Regions from separate parts of the Homo sapiens genome. Here region 1 is linked to region 2. The links come from fine-mapping of genetic effects on gene expression. A gene starts in region 2. The other region holds a variant in brackets. All regions are shown on one strand. Distances are from middle to middle. Region 1 holds the start of MAP1LC3B2 (microtubule associated protein 1 light chain 3 beta 2). Region 2 holds the start of LINC00173 (long intergenic non-protein coding RNA 173).

Region 1 (12,668 bases), 25 kb after region 2:
CTACTTCATAGCCATGTTCTAGGATAAATGAGAGAAGCCTCTACATCTTTTAGTCTCCCAGAAAGACTGGAACCAGGTAAATGCAAAGTGGAGCCGTTTCCTTTGTTTTTGCTGCCTGAGTTACTAACGTGTGGGATTTTTTTTAATAATGGCAAAAATGGATGGATTTATGCAATTACTTTTGTTTTTGTTTTGTTTTGTTTTATTTTTCCTCTGGGGGGAGTCTTGAGGCATTCTAGGCATTCTATACATTATTCTCTTGTATAATTGTTCATCTCTTCTATGGAGTGGATATTGGTATGCCCCTTTCTTAGCAAACTGATGGAGGCTGGCCTCAAAGTGAGCCACAGTGATGGGCTATAACTAATTCCTACTCATAACTCCTAACTAAGTTTAATGTCTGTCTTCCCTACCAGTGATGAGTTCCATGAAGACAAAGACCTGTTTATCTTGTTCTGCTCCAGCACCGAGCAGGTACTCAGTAAGAACTTGTAGAATTAGTGGATGGATGGATAGATGAACAGATGAATGGATGGATTAACAGATTAATAGATGGATGGATAGACAGAGGGATAGATGGATGGATGATGGATGGGTAAGTGGGTGGATGATAGACAGATGGTTATGATAGAGGGATGGCTGATTGGATGAATAGATGGATGGATAGATGGATGGATGAACAGATGGATGGGTGGATAGATGGACAGACGAATGGATGGATGGATGGATAAAATGATGCATGATAGATGGATGGATGAAAATGGAAGGAATGGCTGGATGGATGAACAGAAGGATGGATGAATGGATAGATGAATGGGTGAATATAGTTTGTATATGAACATGAATCACATTACCAGTACTTATCACTGAGAGAAAGTTCTAAGTTGCAGATGTTCAGAGAAATTTAAAGATGCAGACCTAAGATACAGGCCAGAAGGGCCATGCTGTCTCTAAGTCCCTGGGTAGAATCCTTCCTTGCTTCTTCCTAGCTTCCAATGGTGGCCATAAATTCTTGGTGTTCCATGGCTTGTAGCTGTGTCTCTTCACTCTCTGCTTCCATCACCACATGGCCTTTCTCCCTGTGTGCCTCTGTCCGCTCATTGTTTTCCCTCTTCTTAGAAAGACACCAGTCATATTGGATCAAGGGCCCACTCTACTCCAGTATGACCTCCTCTTAACTAATTATATCTGCAATGACCCTGTTTCCCAACAAAGTCACATTCTGAGGTGTTGGGAATTTGGACGTCAACATATCTTTGGCAGGGGACACAATCCAACCCATAACAATCTGTGACATGGCAACCCCTCTCCCGGGTGTGTATCCTGGGGAAACTCCTGAATAGGATCATAAGAGGACGTGTGTGAGAATGTTGGTGGTGGCCAAGTTTGTCCCAGCAAGGAGCCCAAGGTGACCTACATGTCTATGACTGGAGGAAATGAGTCAGCCAGATTTGAAACATGCAGATGATGAAATAATACACAATACCCTGAATTTGCATACATCATCATGGATAGAGCTTAAAAATACAGTGTGAAATGAAAAAAGTAGGAACTAGACTGAGATTGATGACACAATACCATGGACATAAATTTAAAATATACACTCACAGAGCAAGACTATATATGTTTCATAAGCATTGGAAAGTGGGTTGGAAGGATTTATTTTGAAGATACTGGAGTCACTGCCTGTGGGAGGCAGTGAGAAATGCTAACAGCAGACGCAGGCGAAAAATAATACAAGAAGGCACAAGGAGGGCCTTGAACAGACAAATAGTGAATGTGTGGCATAAACTGAGAAGTGTGATTCTACGAAGGCGCCCACCCGGGGTCCAAATTTTGCAAAGAGGGGAGGAATCAGGAAAGGGATTAATGAGTGACAGTGGCGCCCAGGGCTGGGCGGAGTCCAGGTTCTGTGAGCATGCGCAGCAGGGCCCCTTGATCCACGCTGAGCTTCAAGAAAGAGTGCGGAGAAAACCGCCCTAAGCCCAGACGTGGAGGGGAATTGGAGCTGTGCAAGTCAAGAATTAAGCAGGCAGGGCCGAGCAGAAGGAACGGATGGTTAATAAGCCCCCAGGAGAGCCCAGGCTGGACCAAGTGCATCCGCCTGGGGAGAAGGAGAAGGGTACGGTCCGCATGGCCCCGCTGAGGAAGGAGTGGGGACAGGGCTGGCTGTGTGTGTGTCACCCACTCAGACGCCCACAGGGACCAGGTGGCGGAAATGAGCGAATGACCCAGGCGCATACTAAACACTTCCACAAATAATGATGGGCCTTTCTATATTTAAGAAACCCAGGGCCCCCCCAAGTCTCTATTTCTTTTCCTCCCTTTTGATGGAGACACGGGGGCTGGCTTCTTCTCTAAGAAAAACAATAGCGGCGTGTGATGAGAAGTGGTAGCCAACTCAGCCATGGGGGAGACATCAGAGGGGTAGGGCTTGGGGAGGACAGGAAAGGGACGTCCCAGCTCCATGGGAGGGCTGCTGCCTGGTAGCTTCAGAGGATGCCTCCGCCCGAATGTGGTCCCGATGTTGACAGATACTTCCTTTTCCAAGAGAAACTGTGAAACTGGATTTTTATTGGAAATCTTTTTATTTGACATAGTAAAATCTAACTGAACGACAATGAGGTACCACATCACACGCACTAGGATAGCTATAATAAAATAGAATGGAAAATACGAAATTTTGATGAGGAAGTGGAGCAGTTGGAACCCTTGTACATTGCTGGTAGGAAAGTAAGGTGACCCACTCACTGTGGAAAAGTTTGGAGGTTCCTCAGGAAGTTAAACATAGCCTTATCATATAACCCAGCAATTCCACTCCTAGGTATATGCCCAAAAGAATTGAAAGCAGGTACTCTACATGAAGACAAGTACATCTACATGCATGTTCCTAGCAGCGCAGTTCATGATCACCAGGAGGTGGAAACAACCCAAATGTCTGTCATCATGTATGCTGCAATGTAACTGAATCTTGAAAAGGTTATGCCAAGTGAATGAAGCCAGACACTAAAAGTCATACATTGTATGATTCCATTTATATGAAATGTCCAGAATAGGCAAATCCATAGACGGACAGCTGACGAGAGGGTTGCCAGGAGTTGGAGGGATGAGGGTATGGGAGTGAATAAGTGCTGGGTAATGGGTTTCCTTTTGGAGTAGTGAAAGTGTTTTGGAACCAGATAGAGGCGATGGTTACACAAGATTGTGAATATTCTAAATGCCACTGAATTGTTCACTTTAAAATGCTGAATTTTTGCCAGGCACAGTGGCTCATGCCTGTTATCCCAGAACTTTGGGAGGCCGAGGCAGAAGGATCACTTGAGGTCAGGAGTTTGAGACCAGCCTGGCCAACATGGTGAAACCCCATCTCTACTAAAAATACAAAAATTAGCCAGGCATGGTGGTACATGCCTGTAATCCCAGCTACTCAGGAGGCTGAGGCAGGAAAATCTCTTGAACCCAGGAGGTGGAGGTTGCAGTGAGCCAAGATCGCGTCACTACACTCCAGCCTGGGTGACAGAGTGAGAGTTGGTCTTAAAAAAAAAAAAAAAGAAAAACAAAACAAAAACAAACAAACAATGCTTAATTTTTGCCAGGTGCAGTGGCTTATGCCTGTTATCCCAGAACTTTGGGAGGCTGAGTCAGGAGGATCACTTGAGGCCAGTTCAAGACCAGCCTGGGAAACATAGCAAGAGCCTGTCTCTATTGGGAGAAAAAAAAAAAAAAGGTAATAAATAAAATGCTTAATTTTATATTATGTCGATTTCACCTCAATTTTTAAAAAACTGGAAAATGTAATTCAAATATATAAGGAAAAACATGTCAGCCAAATGGATTCAGGCTGTAGGCTGCATCTGAACCCCTGGGGTGCCAGTTTCTAAGTTTGATATGGGGCTTACAGTCAGCAGGAGCCCCATAATCTTGTACAGAGCTGTAGGAATAGGAACTGTTTTACTGGCAGGGAAACTGAGACTCCAAGGAGGTAAAGTGATGGGATCAGAGTCAAGCGCAGGAGCTGGAGCTGAGCCCCAGAGGGTGATCTCCCAGCACAATTGATCCTGTGCTCTCTGCAGTTGGGGCCAAGGGCTGTAGAAAGCATTAGAAAGGTGGCAGCTATTGAAGCAGGTGGCAGAAGGAGGATGCCTGGAAGTTCAGACAAGAACTGTGCATCGAAGCCAGGCACGGTGGCTCGTGCCTGTAATCCCAGCACTTTGGGAGGCTGAGGTGAGTGGATCACTTGAGGTCAGGAGTTTAAGACCATCCTTGCCAACATGGTGAAACTCTGTCTCTACCAAAAATATATAATAATTAGCCGGGTGTGGTGACGCACGCCTGTAGTCCCAGCTTCTTGGGAGGCTGAGGCAGGAGAATCACTTGAACCCAGGAGGCGGAGGTTTCAGTGAGTTGAGATCGTGCCACTGCACTTCAGCCTGGGTGGCAGAGTTGAGACTCCATCTCAAAAAAAAAAAAAAAAAAAAAGAAAGAATTGTGCATCCAGATCTCCTTGGAGTTGTTACCTCCTCTCACACAAGGCCCAGAAAACTCTATCAATTGAAGCCCATTCAGCAAGGCTGGATTGAGTATGTACTGTGCATGTGGCATGCACCAAGTGAAACTAATAAAAGTAGTCAGTGCAAAGGCTTAAGGGTTCACCTTGTGCAAAGCACATTCTGTTGAGACCTCCTCTGATGCTCAGGGTAATGCTGTGAGGTGGAAACAGCATTGCCACATGGATTGCATGCATGCATTTAACTTTTATACCATGCATGCATTTAACTTACATAATGCATGCATTAAACTTACATAAATTCAACTAACTGCAGTTGGCCAAAAGGAAAGGAGAAAAATCCTCATTGAAAGGGGGTAGACCTGTCGTGTCCCCGTGCGAACTTGCCACACGGGAAGCATGGAAATGGAATATATGGATCTGTTCTCGTTGTCTCCAATCCTGGCAGCCTTTCCTAGAATGAGCAGCTCTCTGTGCTGAGTGGGATTCTAGCTGAGGATTTCTCAGCCTTGGCGCTACTGACATTCTGGGTTGGATCATTATTAGTTGTGGGGACTGTCTAGTGTGTTGGAGGATGTTTCGAGGCATCTCTGGCCTCCATCCACTAGATGCCAGGAGCGTTTATTCCTACCCCTAGTTATGACAACCAAAAATGTCTTCAGGTGCTGCCACACATCCCCTGAGGGGCAAAATCACCCTGGCTGAGAATCACTCATCTAGAG[TTTAAAATGCATATTTA/T]TTAAAATGCATATTTATTGGTGCTCAACTAAGGAGCAGGATTGGAGGTGGGGGATGGGGAGGATGGGGAGGTGGGTAAATGGCTGCATTATGATGATAGTATTATTGTTACAGGAAAGTGGTCCCAATCCAGACCCCAAGAGAGGATTCTTGGATCTTGCTCAAGAAAGAATTCAGGGCAAGTCCATAAAGTGAATGCAAGTTTATTGAGAAAGTAAAGGAATCAAAGAATGGCTACTCCATAGGCAGAACAGCCCCAAGGGCTGCTGGTTGCCCATTTTTATGGTTATTTCTTGATGATGTGCTAAACAAGGGGTGGATTATTCATGCCTCCCCTTTTTAGACCATATAGGGTAACCTCCTGACGTTGCCATGGCATTTGTAAACTGTCATGGTGCTGGTGGGAGTGTAGCAGTGAGGATGACCAGAGGTCACTCTGGTCACCATCTTGGTTTTGGTGGGTTTTAGCTGGCATCTTACTGCAACCTGTTTTATCAGCAAGGTCTTTATGACCTGTATCTTTTGTTGACCTCCTATCTCATCCTGTGACTTAGAATGTCTTAATCATCGGGAATGCAGCCCTTTTTACCCAGCTCCTATTCAAGATGGAGTTGCTCTTGTTCACAAGTCTCTGACATTACGACAATTTGCTGACTTGTGGCTGTGCCATACCTTGTGGAAGGGGGCGGAGTTAAGGGATTTTCACGGAAATGTTTTCCTTCACCTTGACTTTAGAATCTAGTACCCATATATGCTCACTGCAACTCAAGTCCCACAGGTGAGAAAATGGGGGCCCCAGGGAGTTAGTCACTTGCCTAAGGTCTCAGAGCTCATGAGTGACAAAGAAGAGATTCAAGCCCAATCTACTTTACTAGGAAACCCGCTCCCTTTTTTTCCCCCCTTTTTTCTTTCCCTTCTCTCATTGTTTTGCCTTCCTGTCCACAAGAGGGGTCTAAGGGAAATCAGCGTGCCAGAAGGTAGAGTCTCACCACAGACTCTCCACTACTGCAGGTGGCACTGAGTGTCATCGGCCTGCCTCACAGTTCTGGATGAGGCCACAGGTAAATTCAGATTCCAAAGGTTTATGAAGCTGGTATGACTTAGGACTCTTCTAGCTGCAAGAGACAAAAGCCTAATTCAGACTAGGTCAAACCAAAAAGGAACCATATTGACTCACATAACTAGCAAGTTGAAGGGGTGATGGCTTCAGGCATGGCGGGATCAAGGGGCTCAAATGGTCATCAGCATATGATCTCTCCATTTTTGGTTTCATCTCTGTTAGCTTCATTCTCTGAACAACTCTTCCTTCCATTATACAAAGAGAGCCAATGGCAGCACTGAGTGTAAAACTTGAGCTTTTAGAAATCCAGCAGAAAGATTTCCTCCCTCCTAAGAGATTCATCCAACATTCCTGAAATTCACTCTGATTGTCCCAGCTTGAGTCCCAGGGATGTTTCCAGAAATGAATCACTATGGCCAGGGGCATATGAGACCCCATGATCAGGCCTGGGCCACCTCCTCACTTCCAGAGTTTGAGAGTAAGTTGAGCCCCAAATCTTACGGAAAAAAGAGTGGGAGGAGGAAGAGTAGTATTCTGTGGCCAACCTAGAAAACCACAGAAATTCCTCCCACCTTCTGCTCAGGCCAGTGGGAAACTTGTAAGACAGAGTCCCAGTCCATGTGAGTGGCGAGTGGGGGCATCTTGGGAGGGGCCTTCCAAAGGCAAAGCCAGGCTGGTTTGGTGGAGTCCTTTCCAGAACCCATCTGCTTGTGTAAAGCCTAGCAGAGGCCACCTTCAGCAGCCCTCCCGGATACTGGTTAAAGTGTTGTTATTGTTTGAGACAGGGTCTCACTCTGCCACCCATACTAGAGGGCAGTAGTACAATCTCGGCTCACTGCAACCTCCACCTCCCGGGTTCAAGCGATTCTCCTGCCTCAGCCTCCTGAGTAGCTGGGACTACAGGCATGTGCCACCGTGTCCCGCTAATTTTTGTATTTTTGGTAGAGATGAGGCTTCACCATGTTGGCCAGGCTGGTTTTGAACTCCTGATCTCAAGTAATCCACCCACCCTGGCCTCCCAAAGTACTGGGATTACAGGCATGAGCCACTGCACCCGGACTTAAAGTGGTTTTTAAAAAGTGCCGTGTGAGACTTCCAAATAGTACTCACGGGGAGGGAAATGAAAGGAGAGGATTGGGGAAGAAACACCTTCTATTTTTTTTTTTTTTTTTTTTTTTTAGAGACAGGGTCTTGCTCTGTCACCCAGGCTGCAGCCTGGACCTCTTGGGCTCAAGGGATCCTCCCACCTTAGCCTCCTGTGTAGCTGGGACCACAGGCGTGCACCGCCACACCCAGCTAATTTTTTTTATTTTTTTGCAGAGATGGGGTCTCTCTATGTTGCCCAGGCTGGCCTCAAACTCCTGGGCTCAAGTGATCCTCCCTTCTCGGCCTCCCAAAGTACTGGGATTACAGGGGTGAGCCACCTCACCTGTACAGCTTCTTTGGAGAATGGGCCTGGGCAGGTCAAACAGGGGCCACTCTACACCATCATGGCACAGCAAGAGCTGGGCTATGTAGGTTCAGTATTCTTTGTCATTTAATCCTTGTGACGACCTCGTGTCATCATTGCTGTTTTACAGATAAGGAACTGAGGCTCAGAGAGGTTCAGTGTCACAGCTAGCATTTCACTTACATATCACAGAGCAAAGGCTCTCTTTGTCCAGAGACAACGTGCCTTTAGGTGATAGAGCTAGGACTGGAACCCAAGTCTATCTGACTCAAAGTCCACACAGCTTGTCCCCCATCCCGCAGGGACCTCTCCACGCTAGTGAGCCCCACGAAACCCCCTCAGTGCTTCGTTCCAGTCTTTTACCTTCAAGCCCAGTCAGCGAGTTCTTTATTTCCACAAATGGTGCTATTAAACTAATGGCTTCGGGAGCTATAGGCTGGCCTCGGCACAGTTACACATCTCTCCACCCACCATGTTCTGGCTTCCAAATAAATACATTGGAAATTCCAGGAGCCGAAGCCCATTTGGAAACGTTTCCGGGCCACCATTTTGCTTTGGGATGGGCAAGAAGAGACACCCTAAACTTGAACTCCTGTCTGTGCAGCCTCCAGCCGGCCAGGCGCTAAATAAGGCCACGGCCCGTTTCCTCCTTCAAAAGTCCCTTGTAAAGGGCGATAGCAGACCCCATCAGGCAAAAAGCTGAGAAGCCAGGGTTGAAATAGAGGCCTCTTTCTGTTTGGTCAATCAGCAGCTGCAAAGGATGCGTAGGATGGAGCTAAATTTATTTGTTCCTTTCTTTCTCAGCAACAGCGACGAGGCCCGAGGTGCAGCTGTCTCGCCTCGCCTGTCTTTTGCAGGCACCGGCATGCACAGAAGATGGCTCTCCGGGAGGAAGATTCCTTTCCATTTTGTTCTCTCTCTGCCTCCGCAAGGCTCGCAGCCACCTCTCGGGAGTGCAGGGCCAGATCCTGTGCCAGCGGGTAGGAATATGTAGCTGCCTCCCAGCCCCAGGGTGGAAATCATGACCTTTGAGAAGCAGGCAAGCTGCACGGCATAGATACTCAGGCCTGGTGAAGGCAAAGTGGGGCCACACCCTAGAAAAACCACAAAAGTCCCCACAGCCTCTGCTTTCACTAGTCAGACCTGTGGGAAACTTGTAAGACACAGTCCATGTGATCGGCGGGTGGGGGCATGTTGGGAGGGGCCTTCCGAAGGCCACAGCCAGGCTGGCAGGGCAGAGTCCTTTCCAGAATTTATCTGTTTGCTTAAAGCCCAGCGGAGGGGCCACCTTCAGTCAACCCTCCAGCATACTGGTCCAAGTAGTTTTTTCAAAGTGCTTTGTGAGACTTTCAAAAGGTACCCATGGGGAGGGAAGTGAGAGGAGGAGGAGGGGACGGTGAAGAAACAGCTTCTTTATTTCTAGCCTTGCTTGAATGGCTTCTTGACGGTTACTGCTCCAGTTTTGCTGAGTCAGAAGAATCCCACAGCCGCTCACCGGAAACACAGCTGTTGGGCAAAAATAACCACAGAGCTGAGCATCATGCACCTTCCAGAAAAGATGGCAGAAAACCTCAAAACAAAAGAGAAATACAAAACAATAGGAGACACTGTCAAGAAAAAAAAAACAAAAACAAAAACCACCGCAGCTCACTAACCGATCCAAGCTGGTGGCGCTCTCCTGATCTCTCTCCACTCCCAGGCCCAGCAACGGCTCTGAAATAAAGCTAAGTTTGGCTATATATATATATATATATATATATATATATATATATATATATATATATATATGTATGTATATGTATATATATATATTTAGATAGAGTCTTCCTCTGTCGCCCAGGCTGGAATGCAGTGGCGCGCTCTCGGCTCGCTGCAACCTCTGCCTCCTGGGTTCAAGTGATTCTCCTGCCTCAGCCTTCCGACTAGCTGGGATTACAGGTGCGCCACCACGCCCAGCTAATTTTTGTATTTTTAGTAGAGACGAGGTTTCGCCATGTTGGCCAGGCTGGTCTCGAACTCCTGACCTCAAGTGATCCGCCCACCTCGGCCTCCCAAAGTCTTGGGATTACAGGTGTGAACCATCACATCTGGCCTACTTTTACACTGTAGTGGGTTTAATAGTGTCTCCCCAGTCACACCTCCACCAAAAAAAGAAAAGATATGTCCACAGTCTAATGTGCTGCAGCACCTGTGAATGTGACCTTAATGGAGAAAGGATCTTTGCAGGTGTAAATTAATTTTAGGATCTCAAGATTGAATCATCCTAGACTACCTGGGTGGACCTCAAATCCAATGACAGGTATCCTTATAAAAGGAAGGCAGATCCAGCTTGGGCAACATAGGGAGACCCTGTTTCTACAAATAGTTTAAAAAAAAAAAAAGGCTGGGCATAGTGGCTTACACCTCTAATCCCAGCACCTTGGGAGTCCAAGGTGGGCAGGTCACTTGAGGCCAGGAGTTCAAGACCAGCTTGCCCAATATGGCTTAACCCCATCTCTACTAAAACTACAAAAATTAGCTGGGCATGGTAGTGTATGCCTGTAGTCCCCGCTACTTGGGAGGCTGAGACACAAGAATCACTTGAATCCGGGAAGCAGAGGTTGCAGTGAGCTGAGATTGTGCCACTGTACTCCAGCTTGGGCAACAGAGCACGACTCCATCTCAGAAAAAAAGCTGTGGGGGACAGTGGTGTGTGCCTGTGGTCCCAGCTACTTGTGAGGCTGAGACAGGAGGATCTCTTGAGCCCAGAAGTTCGAGGCTGCAGTGAGCTATGATGGCACCACTGTACTCCAGCCTGGGTGACCAAGTGAGACCCTGTCTCAAAATAAAAAAAAAAAAGTGTGGCAGAGGTAGATGGGTAGATTAGACACACAGAGAGGAAGTCCCAGAGGAACTTGGAAGTGAGGATTGGAGTTTTGCAGCTACAAACCAAGGATATTAGGGCACTCATAAGAAACTAACAGAGCCACCCCAGGCTTCTGTTTACCAGGTCCTCCCCTGGCCATCTCCTTCCCCTTGTCTGGGCTGAAAACATTCACAGCATCTTGTTTGCGTGGACACCGAGTTTCCCTTTCCCCAGACTTCATAACGATCAGGAAGCAGGATGGGGCCTTGAGGACTCCCGAGACTAAGGGAGGAGTCGAGGGTCCCTGGTTGTAGATAAGTCTTGGCCACAGGCCAGGAGTGTGACCTCATTAACCAGCAGCCATTAGCCATTCACTGAGGCAGCTGGATCCTGGTTCTGCCCCTTACTAGCTGTGTGGCCTGGGGTAAGGTATTTACCCTCCCTGGGCCTCTGTCTCCTCATCTGTCCAATGGAGATAATTAGAAAACTTCCCTTACACAGTTGTTGTAAGGATGGAGCAAGTACATGCAAAGCTGTTCTTGAACGAGGCTGGACTCTGTGCTTCTTATTGTCCAGTGCTTTACACAAGTGTAGTAAGGCTATTGTTTTTCCCTGTCAGCATCTATGACACTATCTTTTGCTTCAGCATCCTGGCTTGCCTTCGGGAGACCATCTCTCTTCCACCCCCTCATTCCAGGAGAGGGTATATCACCCAGACCTGACCAGTCAGACTCAGCTCAGTTCAGGGATGGGAATGTGATCCAAAGTGGGTCCATCAGAGCAAATAGTTGCCGAAACTCGTAGGGAAAAGAAATTCACTTTCTCTTGGTTCCACTATGTGGTGGGATATGAGCGTGGAGCATCTCTGCTGCTACCTAGGGAGAGGCTGCCTGAGACCGATGCCAAAACCCCAGAAAGCAGAGATAAAAGATAGTGGGAGAGTCCTGACAACAATATTTGTATCCCTGGATCCACCTGTGCCTGAAACCATCCGTAGCTCCAAACTCGCAAGTTCCGTGAAACAATAAATCTTTATGTTTAAGACAGTTTGAGTTGATCACTTGTAAACAAAGGCATCCTGACTCATGCAGTGTCTTATGTGATAATCTGAGCAGGAGGTAGACCTCTTATCCCTATTTTATGAGAAGAAACTGAGGCTTAGAGTAACTTAATCACTTGCATAAAATCACTAGTAAGTCCAGGGCTGTCGTCTGATCCATGTAGCCCTGGGAAGGTAGAACGATGATGTGCTTGGTGCATGCCTTGGGAAAGTCACATAAATCTCAAGGCTTTGAGTGGCCAATCTGTACCATAAAAGAGTTGGTATTTTTTAAACTTTCAAATGTATAGCTGATTACAAAAGTGACTATGACAATTAACTATGTATTTGCTCTCCATAACTGACAGATGTTGGCATTTTCTCACAGTTGCTTCAGAGATGAGCTGGTATCTGAAATACTATATAGCTCCTCGTTTCTGTGTCTTGATTCTGGATTGTAAAACACCTAGAAAGTCTGACTTGGCAAAACTTGAAAAAATTTCAAAGATACAGAAGCATTTTATATCTACTCACTTATTTATGATTTCTGGCATTCTTCATTTCTTAAATAAATCTGAGTTTTCACCCTGTATTATTTTTGCTCAGCCCAAACAAGAACTTTATTTTATTTTATTTTATTTGAGATGGAGTTTCGCTCTTGTTGTCCAGGCTAGAGTGCAATGGCGCGATCTCGGCTTACCACAACCCCTGCCTCCTAGGTTCAAGCGATTCTTCTGCCTCAGCCTCTCGAGTAGCTGGGATTACAGGCCTGCACCACCATGCCTGGTTAATTTTGTATTTTTTTAGTACGGGGTTTCTCCATGTCGGTCAGGCTGATCTCAAACTCCTAACCTCAGGTGATCTGCCCACCTCGGCCTCCCAAAGTGCTGGGATTACAGGCATGAGCCACCACACCTGGTAAAGAACTTCTTTTAATATTTCATATGGTGTAGGTCTACCGGTAATAAATTCTACCACTTTTTGTCAGTAAAACATTCTTTCACCTTCATTTAAAAAATATATTTTCAC
Region 2 (12,668 bases):
GTAACTTTCTGCTTAGTCCTCTTTCTCCTTCTTTCCCGGTGCACACCCTGGGAAAGGCTCTGCGAAGTCCCACAGTGTTTCTTTAGGAGACTGGGCGGCCCCTTGATTTATGTTCACTTGGCAACGTAAAATTGAAATGGCCTGAGGACGCTGAATAACTGGAAAAGGGAGATGGAGAGGAGGCCTCTGGGTGTCTGATTCCATGTAGCTCATGCCTGGCCCTTCCCCCGTAGACCAGAGCCACGGACCTTGGAGTCCATGGGCAAAAGGAAAAGCAAATGAGGTGGCTGGAGTTGGAAAAAGAAGTCCAAAATTGTTCAGAGAAACTAGCATCATCTGTTTTTTCTGGGAGCCTGACGACTTTGTATTTTTTCCTCCTTCTTCCTTTCTCCTTCTCTGTCTTTTCTCTAGGGATCGCCTACCCATTTTGGATTTAATGCATAACCCATGGGGAAAAAGCAGAAATTTTAATCCCCAATCCGGCCCATGGTAGGGGCTCCATAAATGTTAGTTGAGTTAAATACTTTTTTATAAAAGAAGTTGGGGCCAGGCACGGTGGCTCATGCCTGTAATCCCAGCACTTTGGGAGGCCGAAGCAGGCAGATCACTTGAGGTCAGGAGTTCGACACCAGCCTGGCCAACATGGTGAAACCCCTGCCACAACTAAAAATACAAAAATTAGCCGGGTGTCATGGTGCACACCTGTAATCCCAGCTACATGGAGGCTGAGGTGGGAGGATAGTTTGAACGCAGGAGGCAGAGGTTGCAGTGAGCCAAGATCGTGGCACTGTACTCCAGCCTGGGTAACAGAGCAAGACTCTGTCTCAAATCATAATAATAATAAATAAAAGAAGTTGAAAGTCAACTTTTTTTGTTTGGTTCTGTGAAGTGTCTTGCCTGGGCCTGCAGAACCTGGGCTCATATCCCTCTGAAAGCACGGCTTGCATCCCATATAAACACTTGTGTCTGTTCTCAAATTACATTTTGAGCTATTTGAGGGCAGGGACTCTTCTTCCCTCCTTGACTCTTTCTTTCCACAAATATTTATTGAACACCTACTGTGTGCCATCATTATCTCCCTTCCACTCCACCCTAACTATTAGCATGTCTGTCTTTGAATGTTCGGGTCTCAGTGTTACATGAATAAATAAATGAATGGAAAAATGGAGTTTTAGGTGGGACTCCAGGAAGTGGACCAGGGTCTGAGGTTCTCCTGGAAGGCTTACATGTGGTTAACATCTTAGAATTGGGGCCAGGTGCAGCGGCTCAGGACTGTAATCCCAGTGCTTTGGGAGGTTGAGGCAGGAGGACTGCTTGAGGCAAGGAGTTTCAGACCAGCCTAGGCAACAGAGTGAGACTCTGTCCCTACAAAATTATAAAAATAAAATAAAATGAATTAGCCAGGCATGGTTATGTGTTCCTGTAGTCCCAGCTACTTGGGAGGCTGAGGTGGGAGGATGCCACGAGCCCAGGACTTCAAGGCTGCAGTGAGCTATGATTGTGCCCATGCACTCCAGCCTGTGTGACAAAGCAAGACCCTGTCTCTGGAAAAATAAAAAAAATCTTAGAATTGGGATGGAAGGCAACAGAGAGACAAGCTGGTCTCGGGTAGGAATAAGGACTGATAGTGATCAGTACCAACTTGGCTGCCATTTTGCCTTATGACTGGAAGATGTAACTCTTTGGACTGCGGTTGTTCTATCCCTAAAACGAGAGCAACCTCAAGATTTCTTGCAGATTTAGAGTTCTAGGATTCTCCAGAAACATTTACCCCTAAAACCAATAAAGTCAGATCCTTCCATAAAAGAATTATGACACCACCAGATTCGTCCCCTGCACTTTCTCTTCTTGGACTGTCTCTTCTTAGTCTCCCTTGGAACTGGATTTGTCTTTTCTTGTTCAAGAATCTATACTGGCTCCCAGTTGCCTATCATATCTAATGTGCCTTCCTCTCCTTGGCTTTCAAAAAATACACAGTCTGTGCACAGCCTACAAATCTCTCTGACATGCATCCCAGCACACAGCAGTGGAAATCCTCCATTCCAGCGAGGCTGTTTCCTCTCTGCCCCGACTTCCCTTCAGACCTTTACATGTGGTTCCCTCATGGAGTGCCCCTTCCTGTTCCTTTTATGATATCTCAATCCTCCTGATGTCATAAAGTTTCCAATTGGAGCCAAATTTAAGTTGGTTTTGAATAGAACATCCAAAACAAGGACTTACTCCAGGAAAAAAAAAATTTACTCATATTTCCAGACTCAAAACAAACTCTGTGATTCTCTTGGTTAATTTCCTTCCAGTCTTTTTTCTTTGGAGATCTGAGCAGAATTTTAAAGGAGGAACTCCACAACTTACATAGCCATCACCTTTGGTTGGTTGGACATGGAGGTTGCTTCTAATCTTTCACCGTAATCTACATGTCATGACGAACATCCTGTAACTAAATCTTTTTATATGTCTTTAATTATTTCCTTGGGCTAAATTCCTAACAGGTGAATCATCAGGATTAAAGGCTCTTTGATGATGGGGGTGTAGGGTTGGAGGAAGAGGAACCACGCTGTGATCTAAATCCTTCTGTGAGTCCATGGGGCACACTGAGTGAGAAAGTGACAACCTCCATCTTTTTCTTTGGGAACTGGCCGGTTGAGTGGGTGTCCCAGCACCTTTGCATCCCTGCCTATCATTTTTCTGCCCAACATCAAGTTTCTAAGACTTCTAGAAGGTTCTTCAAAGGCAATAGGTAATGGAAAATGAACAGCCAGCATAGCTTTAGTCAGTGGCAACATTTGCCATGCAGTGGCTGAGGATTCTGGAGCTGAGACTCTGCTGAGTCTGTCCCCTCCATTATCCCCACCCCCAAACACCCCCATCCCCCACTCTTGGGTTGATGGACTATGGCACTTGGACAGACACATGTGATTGACTGTGGTATTAAGAAAATATGTATGACACAATGTTTTTTAGCTTTTTCCAGAGATATTTATATCACACAAATGGCATGTTGGTTTCTTTTTTTTTTTTCCATCTCAACCACTAAGAATGAATAAATCAATTGTCTTAATCAGGCTAATGGAGAGTGCATGGGCTAGAAACATAGGTGGGAGGGGCTCTTCATCTGAGCCTGTTGCTCCATTAGCAGGGGTAGAGGGGCCTGGCAAAGTCCCGTCATTATCTCTGGGCCTCTGTTTCCCTGTCCTTGGGATGGGCATCTGACCACTCATGACTTTGCAGGATAAAGATTGTCAGAAGCATTTGGAGTTCCTTGGAAGAAAGTAGCTGCATGAATTTTTAATCCTCTATTTTCAGCTCTTTGGAGCCGTGTGTAGGAGCAGGGCTGTAAACACAGAGAACTCACCGCTACATTCTAGTTTATAAGGTTTTTGTCTCACACAATCCCACAGACCTGACCTTAAGAACAACTCAAAATGTGGGCGAAAAGCAGTTTGTTGTGGTCGTCGTTATCACATAAAAATTAATGGCTTGGCAAACACAAGGATCATCCTGTCACGCTGAGGTCATGTTTACACCAAGCAAATATATTTCAAGGTTCCTAGAGTTTCAGCAGCACTGCAAGGCAGAATCAACACAATTCCCAAGCAAGACTCAGAATCCGGTGCCAGATTCACCCTGGTTCCAGAGGGAGACATTAGTGAGTATTAATTCTGCAATTAGAATGCCATCCGTTTCCAAATTCCTTATGGCTGAAGCAGGTTTTTTTGTTTTTGAGACAGAGTTTTTGCTCTGTCGCCCAGGCTGGAGTGCAATGGTGCAATCTCGGCTCACTGCAACCTCCATCTCCCGGGTTCAAGTGATTCTCCTGCCTCAGCCTCCTGAGTAGCTGGGACTACAGGTGCCCACCATCACGCCCAGCTAATTTTTGTATTTTTAGTAGAGATGAGATTTCACCATGTTGGCCAGGCTGGTCTTGAACTCTTGACCTCAGGTGATCCACCCACCTTGGATTCCCAAAGTGCTAGGATTACAGGCATGAGCCACAGTGCCCAGCCTGAAGCAGGTTTTTTAGTTCCTAACTTATTGAGGCCTGCTAGTGCCACTGATCAGTGAAAAAAAGAAAAGGAAAATTCATAAGGTCATAGGATCCACACTTGGATCTCATTCATTGCTTATGCATTAATTCACCAAATATTTATTGAAGTGGGCCAGGGCCTGAGATTCTCCCCGAGGCTTACATGTGGTTAACATCTTAGAACTGGGGCTGGGTGCGGTGGCTCAGGCCTGTAATCCCAGTGCTTTGGGAGGTTGAGGCAGGAGGACTGCTTGAGGTTAGGAGTACCAGACCAGTCTGGGCAACATAGTGAGACTCCATCTCTACAAAAAAATTAAAATAAAAATAAATTAACCAAGCATGGTCGTGTGTTCCTGTAGTCCCAGCTACTTGGGAGGCTGAGGGGGGAAGATGTTATGAGCCCCGGAGGTCAAGGCTGCAGTAGCTATGATTGTGTCACTGCACTCCCCAAAGTCTCTACCAGGGACTGTGCTAAGTGCTGGGGACACAGTGGGTGGCAAAAGCAGAATGGTCCCTTCCTAGGGGAAGGCTGTAGTCAGGTCAAGAAGATGGACATTAATCAGTAATTGCAAAAGGAAATGTAAAATTACAACCAAATTCGGAGCTGTGAAAGGAAGGCTGGGGGACAGATCATTGTCAGAGGAGGATCTGAGGTAGCCTTGGGGTACAAGTGGACAGAACCCAGTGGGAGGATGGGAAGGAGGAAGGCACTGCGTAAGCCAAGGTCCATGGTAGGACGGAGGGGCAATTTGGGGATATGAAAGTCCAGAGTAGCAAGAAGGAAGGGGAGAGAAGTATAAGATGGATCTAGTCTATGGCCATATGGACCCTGAACTCACCCCATCTCATCTAAAAGATGGAGCTAGGCACACCCACTGGGATGGCAAACATTATTATTGTTACTATTATTTTGAGACAGAGTGTTGCTCTGTTGCCCAGGCTGGAGTGCAGTGGCACAATCTCGGCTCACTGCAATCTCCATCTCCCAGGGTCAAGCAAATTCTCCTGCCTCAGCCTCCCAAGTAGCTGGGACTACAGGCACACGCTACCACGCCCAGCTAATTTTTGTATTTTTAGTAAAGACGGGGCTTCACCATATTGGTCAAGCTGGTCTCGAACTCCTGACCTCAGGCAATCCACCCCGCTTGGCCTCCCAGAGTGCTGGGATTACAGGCGTGAGCCACTGTGCCCGGCGCAAACTTTTTTTTTTAACAGAAAATAACAAGTGTTGGTTGGCAAGGATGTAAAAAATTGGAGCCCTGGTGCACTGCTGGTGAAAATGTAAAATGGGCAGTCACTGAGGAAAATAGTGTGGCGGTTCTTTGACAAGCTAAACACAGAGTTACTGCAGAACCTAGCAGTTCCATTCCTAAGTATGTACCCCAAACAATTGAAAACAAAGGTTCAGGCCAGGCGCGGTGGCTCACACCTGTAATCCCAGCACTTTGGGAGGCCAAGGCAGGGGAATCAGGAGTTGAGGTCCTGACTGAGGTCAGGAGTTCGAGACCAGCCTGGCCAACGTGACAAAACCCCTTCTCTACCGAAAATACAAAAATTAGCCAGGCGTGATGGCGCACTCCTGTAATCCCAGCTACTCGGGGGGCTGAGGCAGGAGAATCGCTTGAACCCGGGAGGCAGAGGTTGCAGTGAGCCGAGATTGCGCCACTGAATTCCAGCCTGGGGAACAGAGGGAGACTCTGTCTCCAAAACATAAATAGATAGATAGATAAATAAACAAATAAATAAATGCAAATATTCAAATGAAAACTTACCCACAATTGTTCATAGAGCACTATTCACAATAGCCAAAAGGTGGAAACAACCCAAATGACCCCTAGCCAGTGAATGGATCAACAAAATGTGGTCCATCCAGGCAATGGAACAGCACTGAGCCATAAGAAGAAAGGAAGCACTGGCATGCGCTACAGCATGGATGAGCCTTGAACACATGATGCTGAGTGGGAGAAGCAGACACAAAGATTATATATCGTAGGATTCCACTTACATGAAATATCCAGAACAGGCAATCCATAGAGACAGAGAGCAGATTGGCAGCTGCCAGGGGCCAACGGGAGGGAAGAATGGGAAGTGACTGCTAATGGGTACCGAGATTCTGTTTGGGGTGATGGAAAACTTCTGGACCTGGCCAGGCATGGTGGCTCACCCCTGTAATCCCAGCAGTCTGGGAGGCCAAGGTGGGTGGATCACCTGAGGTCAGGAGTTCAAGACCAGCTTGGCCAACATGGTGAAACCCTGTCTCTACTAAAAATACAAAAATTAGCCAGGCGTGGTGGCAGGCACCTGTAATCCCAGCTACTCGGGAGGCTGAGGCAGGAGAATCACTTGAACCTGGGAGACAGAGGTTACAGTGAGCCAAGATCATGCCACTGCACTCCATCCTGGATGACAGAATGAGACTCTGCCTCCAAAAAACAAAACAAAACAAACAAATAAAAAAAAAAAAAAGATGGTGGCAGCTCACACCTGTAATCCCAGCAACTGGGGAAGCTAAGGCAAGAGGTGTGGCAGCTCACACCTGTAATCCCCAGCAACTGGGGAAGCTTGAGGCCAGGAGTTCAAGACTAGTCTGGGCAACATGATGAGATTTGATCTCTACAGAAATAAAAATAAAAATTAGCTGGGCATGGGGGCAAGCACCTGTGGTCCCAGCTACTCAAGAAGCTGAGGCAGGAGGATTGCTTGTGTCCAGGAATTCAAGGCTGCAGTGAGCTACGATCACACTGCTGCACTCCAGCCTGGGCAACAGAGGGAGACCATGTCTTTAAAAAAAAAAAAAAAAAAAAAAAAAAGATGGCGCTAGAGAGACAGTTGATACAGGGTATGGATGGTGACCATCATTGATCATCATGGCTGCTGGTGGGTAGTGGATGGGAGTGAGAACAGCATTAAGAGGAAGGCCAGTGATGAGGCGGGGACAGTGGTCCAGGAGGAAGATGCAGGTGGCCTGGACCAGGGGGCACACAGTGAGCCACGTGTGTCAGGCAAAACCAAGAGGGCTTAGTGAGGATCTGGATGCACAATCATTCAATATAGACTCAACTCTGCCCCTCCTATTCAGCACCTGTATGCACTTATGGATGGGAGGAGAGTGTTGGAGGGAGAAAGTATATGTTCTCATAGGGATGCTGAAGAACAGGTCAGAAGACCCCTGGCTTCAAATTTTGACTTTTTCATTGCCAGATCCCGAGAGAGTAACTTCGTTTCTTTGTGCCTGTGTTCCTTCCCCTGTAAAATCAAGGCCCCAACATGCACTTCATAGGTCGTTGTGAGACGGGGACAACAGCACCTGCCCTGGCTACCTCCTAGGGCTCTTGGGAGACCCAAATGAGTTGTTAATCCTTCAAGGACAACACAGATCACGTTGCTGGGCTGATGTCATTGCTTTTGGAAAGCAGGTCCCTTGAACAGATTCTCCCAAAGCAGTGACTTTAGGAACATCTCGAAGGCGACAGATTCCAGTTGTTAAGGCTACGATGAAATAGCAGAAGACTCTGGGAAGCAGCGTGCAACGAGTGGCAAAGGAGCCCCTAACGCTCTTTCTTCTGTGCTCGCCCCGCCCCCTCCGGCGTGGGCCCCGCCCCGACTAAGCCCCAGCCAGGCCCCGCCCCCGATGTTAGCGCAAGCCACGCCTCCTCAGCTCCCAGCCTTCTGGGTCCGAGGCTCCCACCTGCTCTAAGCGCTTGGTACCAGGGAGGGAATGGGAGGACGCTTGCGGGATAGGGAGGCGGGGGCTGGAAATTGGCAGGGTGAGAGCTGGGGAAACTAGTCTGGGACGCAGCCCTCCTTGTCCCCCTTCTTCATTCACCCCCTTGTTGAGGCCCTTGGCTTTTGCATAATGTAAGTACTTATTTAATGCGTGTGCTGGCTCGAGAGCTCTGCATTTGTCTTTCTGTCCTTCATATGCCAGTGTACCTCCGCCTTCTGTCTGTCTAGGTGGGAGCTCCTGGAGAGGAGGGTGCTTCCCAGCAGTTGCTGTTCGACCCCCAGCCCCGGGCCAAGGGCACAGAGAGAGAGACAGAGAGGCTGGGGCTGCAGTGGGGGTGGGGAGGTGGGAGCTGGGGCGGGGCGGAGGGAGCGAGGGGGAGGAATGAGAGCACCATATGACAGGCTTGTGGAACCACATCTGATGCCAACTTGGATGCTGTCCTTTTTCTCCAATAAAAGGAACTTTTCACTTGTTTTTCAGACACCCTTTAAAAAAATGTATTTAAAGAGGCTGGTTCCTATCCATCCGACTGGAGGCATCTCAGTGCAAGAGCAAAGCTAAGTCCTGCACACGCTCCTCCCCTCCTCCTCCTCCTTCTCCCCCCAGGTTTTCCCGAATGTATCTACTCCGGTTACAACTAGACGCGGCCCCTCCCCCACCTGCCTCCCCCCTTCCTTCCCTCGATCGTGGAGGGAGCGTTCTCTGTGCCTTCCCAAGTCCCCGTGGGGGACCTTCTATGTTGGAGTGGGGGGAGGGGGGGAGGGTCATATAACGAAGGCCAGAAAGAACAAATTAGATAATCAAAAGAATTATAGTAATTGCTTTCACTTTCCCCCGCCCGCTCAGCGGATTCCCTCCCCCGCCCCTCCCCTGGTTTTTCTGTCTGTCGGGAATACTCGGTCTTTCCGACCCCCTCCCCTCCCCCAGGTTCCTCCTCTCCTCTCCCCTTGCTCGCGCGTTCCCTCTCTTCCTCCGTTTTCTGGTGTGCTGGAACGTTCAGCGGAATATGATGAATGATCACCTGTCACAGCTTGTTTATTATAATGCAGGCAATCAATTACACATCCCCAATGCTGGCCGGCCCGCAGGAAATTTATATGCTCAGCACAAACCAATGTGAAAATGGAATCTCATTTGCCAAATGTCTTTCTCCCCGTACAGCACGATGATTACAGTCTGTGTTTGTTTCAACAGTCGTGTACAACTGACAGTGCCATCATTTACTGCCTGGCTCAGGTCACGTTACTCTAAGGCTTTATTTATGGTGTTACGAAGGGCAGCACAGGAAAAGGACAAGGGTGTCTGTCAGGGATGGCACTGTGTTAAAAAGTGGGCGTGCAAGGGCCGCATTCCCGGGCAGCCGCTGCAACCTCAGCCCCTGGGCCCTTACCTCCGCAGCCTCTCCCAGCATCCAGCTACCCAGACTCCAAGGCCCCAGGCGAGAGCCAGCTCTCGGTACCTGGAGCTCCACAGGTCCCAGAATCGGGGTGGATCAGAGTTCAAATTCTGGTTCTGCTACTGTCTAATTGCGTGCTGCAGGGACTCAATCTCTTCATCTGGGAAATGGGAGTAATAACCCTTGGCAGGAATGTTGCGATCCTCTGGGATGTCAGAGGTGTTGATGAATGTTAGTTCCCGGGACTTCGGAAAGAGGTCCCGTTGGAAGAGATGTGAATTGGAATTCACACCCTATATTAAAATCTCCTCCAATCTTCACCTCTGAGACATGGCTGTCTCAAGACTGTTTTGTTTCCCTTCCTGGTGGAATTTTGCACTTTTATGTCCTGTGTAGCAGCAGGTAGTGTGGCTTTGAGAAAATAAAATGGCCACCTTGCTCCGCTGTTCTTTCTTTGTAAAAAAAAAAAAAAAAAAAAAAAAACGGCATAGCAATCTTGGCCTTTCTAGCTGTGTGACCCCAGGCCGGTCAATCCCTCCTCCTCTCCAAGCCTCGGATTCCTCCCCTGAGAAGTAAAGAAAATAACTCCTAAACTGCCTCCCGAGGCTTGCTGGCAGGATCCAAGGTGTCCAGAGATGTTAAAAAAAAAAAAAAAAAAAAAAAAAAGCCCAGTAAATGGGAAAGTGAGGCTGTCACTGCTGAGTGGCATCCTGTTTTCAGGAGTTCTGGTTGGTCCCCAGAGTTCTGCTACACAAAATGTTGACCCAAATTTGTACCCCCACAACACTTGGTGTCAAGTGGGAGCTCAGAAACTGAGGGGCAGGCAGATGCTTTTATGTGTATTAGGTTGTCTTTTATTGTATTGTATAGTTCCTTTTTTTTTTTTTTTTTTTGAGATGGAGTCTTGCTCTATTGCCCAGGATGGAGTACAGTGGCACGATCTTGGCTCACTGCAACCTCCACCTCCTGGGTTCAAGCAATTCTCCTGCCTCAGCCTCTCAAGTAGCTGGGATTACAGGCACGTACCACCATGCCTGGCTAATTTTTGTAATTTTAGTAGAGACAGGTTTTCACCGTGTTGGCCAGGCTGGTCTCGAACTCCTGACCTCAACTGATCCACCCACCTCAGCCTCCCAAAGTGCTGGGATTACAGGCTTGAGCCACCGTGCCCAGCCTGTACTATATATTTCTTTATTATTTGACACGTGTATTTGTTTAATGGCCCTCTGCTCCACCAGTATGGAAGCTCCAAAAGGAAAGATACCAGATTGATCTTGATCACCTCTGCCTCCCCAGCACCTAGTCTTCCTTGGCACATCGTGAGTGCTCGGTAAATATCTGTGGCTTTAATGGATGAATGAATGAATGACTACATGGCTAAACTCCATTCTAGGGCAACATCTGTGGTGCAGTGGATGGGCCCTAGTGAATGGATATTTAACGGATATCGTACTATTCCTCATCTCCACAGGGTCAGGCTGTGCCACATCCACCCAGCCTTGCCTGGGGTCATTTATCCTACATGTACTCAGATCACGTGAACTGGTGATGGGCCACCCATGTGCCTGCCTGGAGACTCCTATTCACCCTTCAGATCAATATCCCCCAAATAAACTCCCAGTCACTCTGGCATCCCATGTTGCTTTGTGATCTCTGCCTCTCTCTAGACCATTTGGCTCCTATGCACAGGCAGCTATGTCTTTTTCATATTTGGGTCCCCAAAATGCACAGTGCGGTGCCTGCCTCAAAACAAATGCTTTTCAATCCGTCAATCAATCAGTTGACATGGATCATCTTTTCTCAGCACTGATGTATGGACTACAACTTGGAATTCCATTAAAGCTCCTGGGGTCAAGAAAAAAAGTGATTCAAGTTTATTTATTTATTTTTTTTTGAGACAGAGTCTCATTCTGTCGCCCAGGCTGGAGTGCAGTGGCACGATCTTGGCTCACTGCAACCTCTGCCTCTGGGGTTCAAGTGATTCTCACTCATGCCTCAGCCTCCCAAGTAGCTGGGCAAGAGCCAGCACACCCGGGCTAATTTTTGTATTTTTAGTAGGGACGGGCTTTCGCCATGTTGGCCAGACTGGTCTCGAACTCCTGGCTTCAAGTGATCTGCCCACTTCAGCCTCCCAAAGTGCTGGGATTACAGGCATTTAATCACTGCACCCGGGTGAGCCACTGCACCCGGCCAAGTTCATATTCTAAAAGTGAAACATTAATGCTGCATTGTGTATTTTTTGGTCAAGTGCTTCAGATGTGTGGAAGGAATTTCTTTGTATAAATGCAATTATTCGTCACCATGATGATAATTATAACGAGGGTGACTGCACAGAACTGTGCCTCCCCAGCAAGCATGGGCTGGGCAGGGCCGGGTATTCCCTTCGCTGACTTGCTTCACTAGTTGACTAACAGACCTTATTCCCGGGCCTGAGCTGATGATATCCTGCCAATGCCAGCTTCCCAACATGGAGGGGACGCAAGAGCGAGCGCCATGGGATCCTGGGGGAAAAGCAGCCTGTGTTTGCTGCTGCTTTGACAGTTGAGGCTCTGAGAGGGACTGGCAAACAATGGGAAATGAAACATTTGAGTGGTTGCAAAAAATTCCATGGGAAATCCCCCCTGGTGGTATTTATGTGCGACGGCTGTGACAAGGAGAGCGCAGGGCTTTCGATTTCAAGGGTTCCTGAGCAGACCACAATGGCCTTCCAAGATGGCAATCCCCGGGAACAGCTCTCTCGGCCACAAAAGGCCAGTTTGTCTGTCCAGGGAAGATCTGGCCCCATGCATCAAGTTGGCCATGAGCTGCAGTGTCTTCTTTGGGGCATGACCCACATTTATAGGGTCTGGGCCTCTGAACCTTCTGCTCCTAAGACAGATCTATCTCAGTTGTCCCTCTGGTTTTCCCAGGCCTCAAGGACCTGGGGGCTGATAGGGGCTGAGGGGTTTCCCTCGGGCTCAGCCTCCATCTGCAGAACTGTGGGAACCTCAGCCTCCATCAGACCCCTCCCCATTTTCTGGTCAGCACGTGGCCTCCTCCTGTTTCCTCCATTCCCGTTGGTAATGGACATTTATTTAACTTTTACTCCCCCTCCATTCTCATTTAGAAAAGAAAGTGAACTGATATTAACCAATCTTTGTTTTGCCTTCTTTAACACTAATGCATATGCAAAATAGTTACCACTATTGATAATATCTTATTGCTGCTGTGATATATGTGTGTATATGTACAGATCTGCTTGAAGGTAAGCTTTATATAGATTTTTAGAGATACTTGGTAAATGAGAAAATGGAAACTGAAAGAGGTTAAATAAACTGCCCATGTGTATTGGTCATGAGGTTTCAGTTGCAAAGTGACAAAATCCTGACTTAGATGAACTTAAACCGGATGGAAAATGTACATTGTATTATTTGAGAAGCAAGGTCTGGATAAGCTTCAGGCATGGCTGGATCCAGGCCCTCAGTTAAGTCTTTAGGAATTTCCCTCTCTCTAGCTTTTTGGCTTTGCTTTTCCCTGTATTG

What was found.
Region 1: its variant is fine-mapped to the expression of LINC00173 in cerebellum (GTEx, PIP above 0.99). The same link has a PIP of 0.9 or more in sun-exposed skin.

What each region holds. Positions count from the first base shown.
Region 1 is chr12:116,550,699-116,563,366 of GRCh38, forward strand. MAP1LC3B2 (microtubule associated protein 1 light chain 3 beta 2) reads left to right here and starts at 8,683. Exons shown (of 2, transcript NM_001085481.3): 1 at 8,683-8,735. RefSeq lists enhancers at 8,178-8,687, 8,527-8,866, 9,087-9,136, 9,177-9,276, 10,766-11,060 and a silencer at 10,766-11,060. The variant TTTAAAATGCATATTTA/T (reference allele first, on the strand shown) is at 5,230.
Region 2 is chr12:116,525,735-116,538,402 of GRCh38, forward strand. LINC00173 (long intergenic non-protein coding RNA 173) reads left to right here and starts at 7,701. Exons shown (of 3, transcript NR_027346.1): 1 at 7,701-7,882; 2 at 10,386-10,477; 3 at 10,619-10,779. RefSeq lists enhancers at 2,062-3,261, 9,076-9,610, 11,651-11,880 and silencers at 7,512-7,713, 7,618-7,667.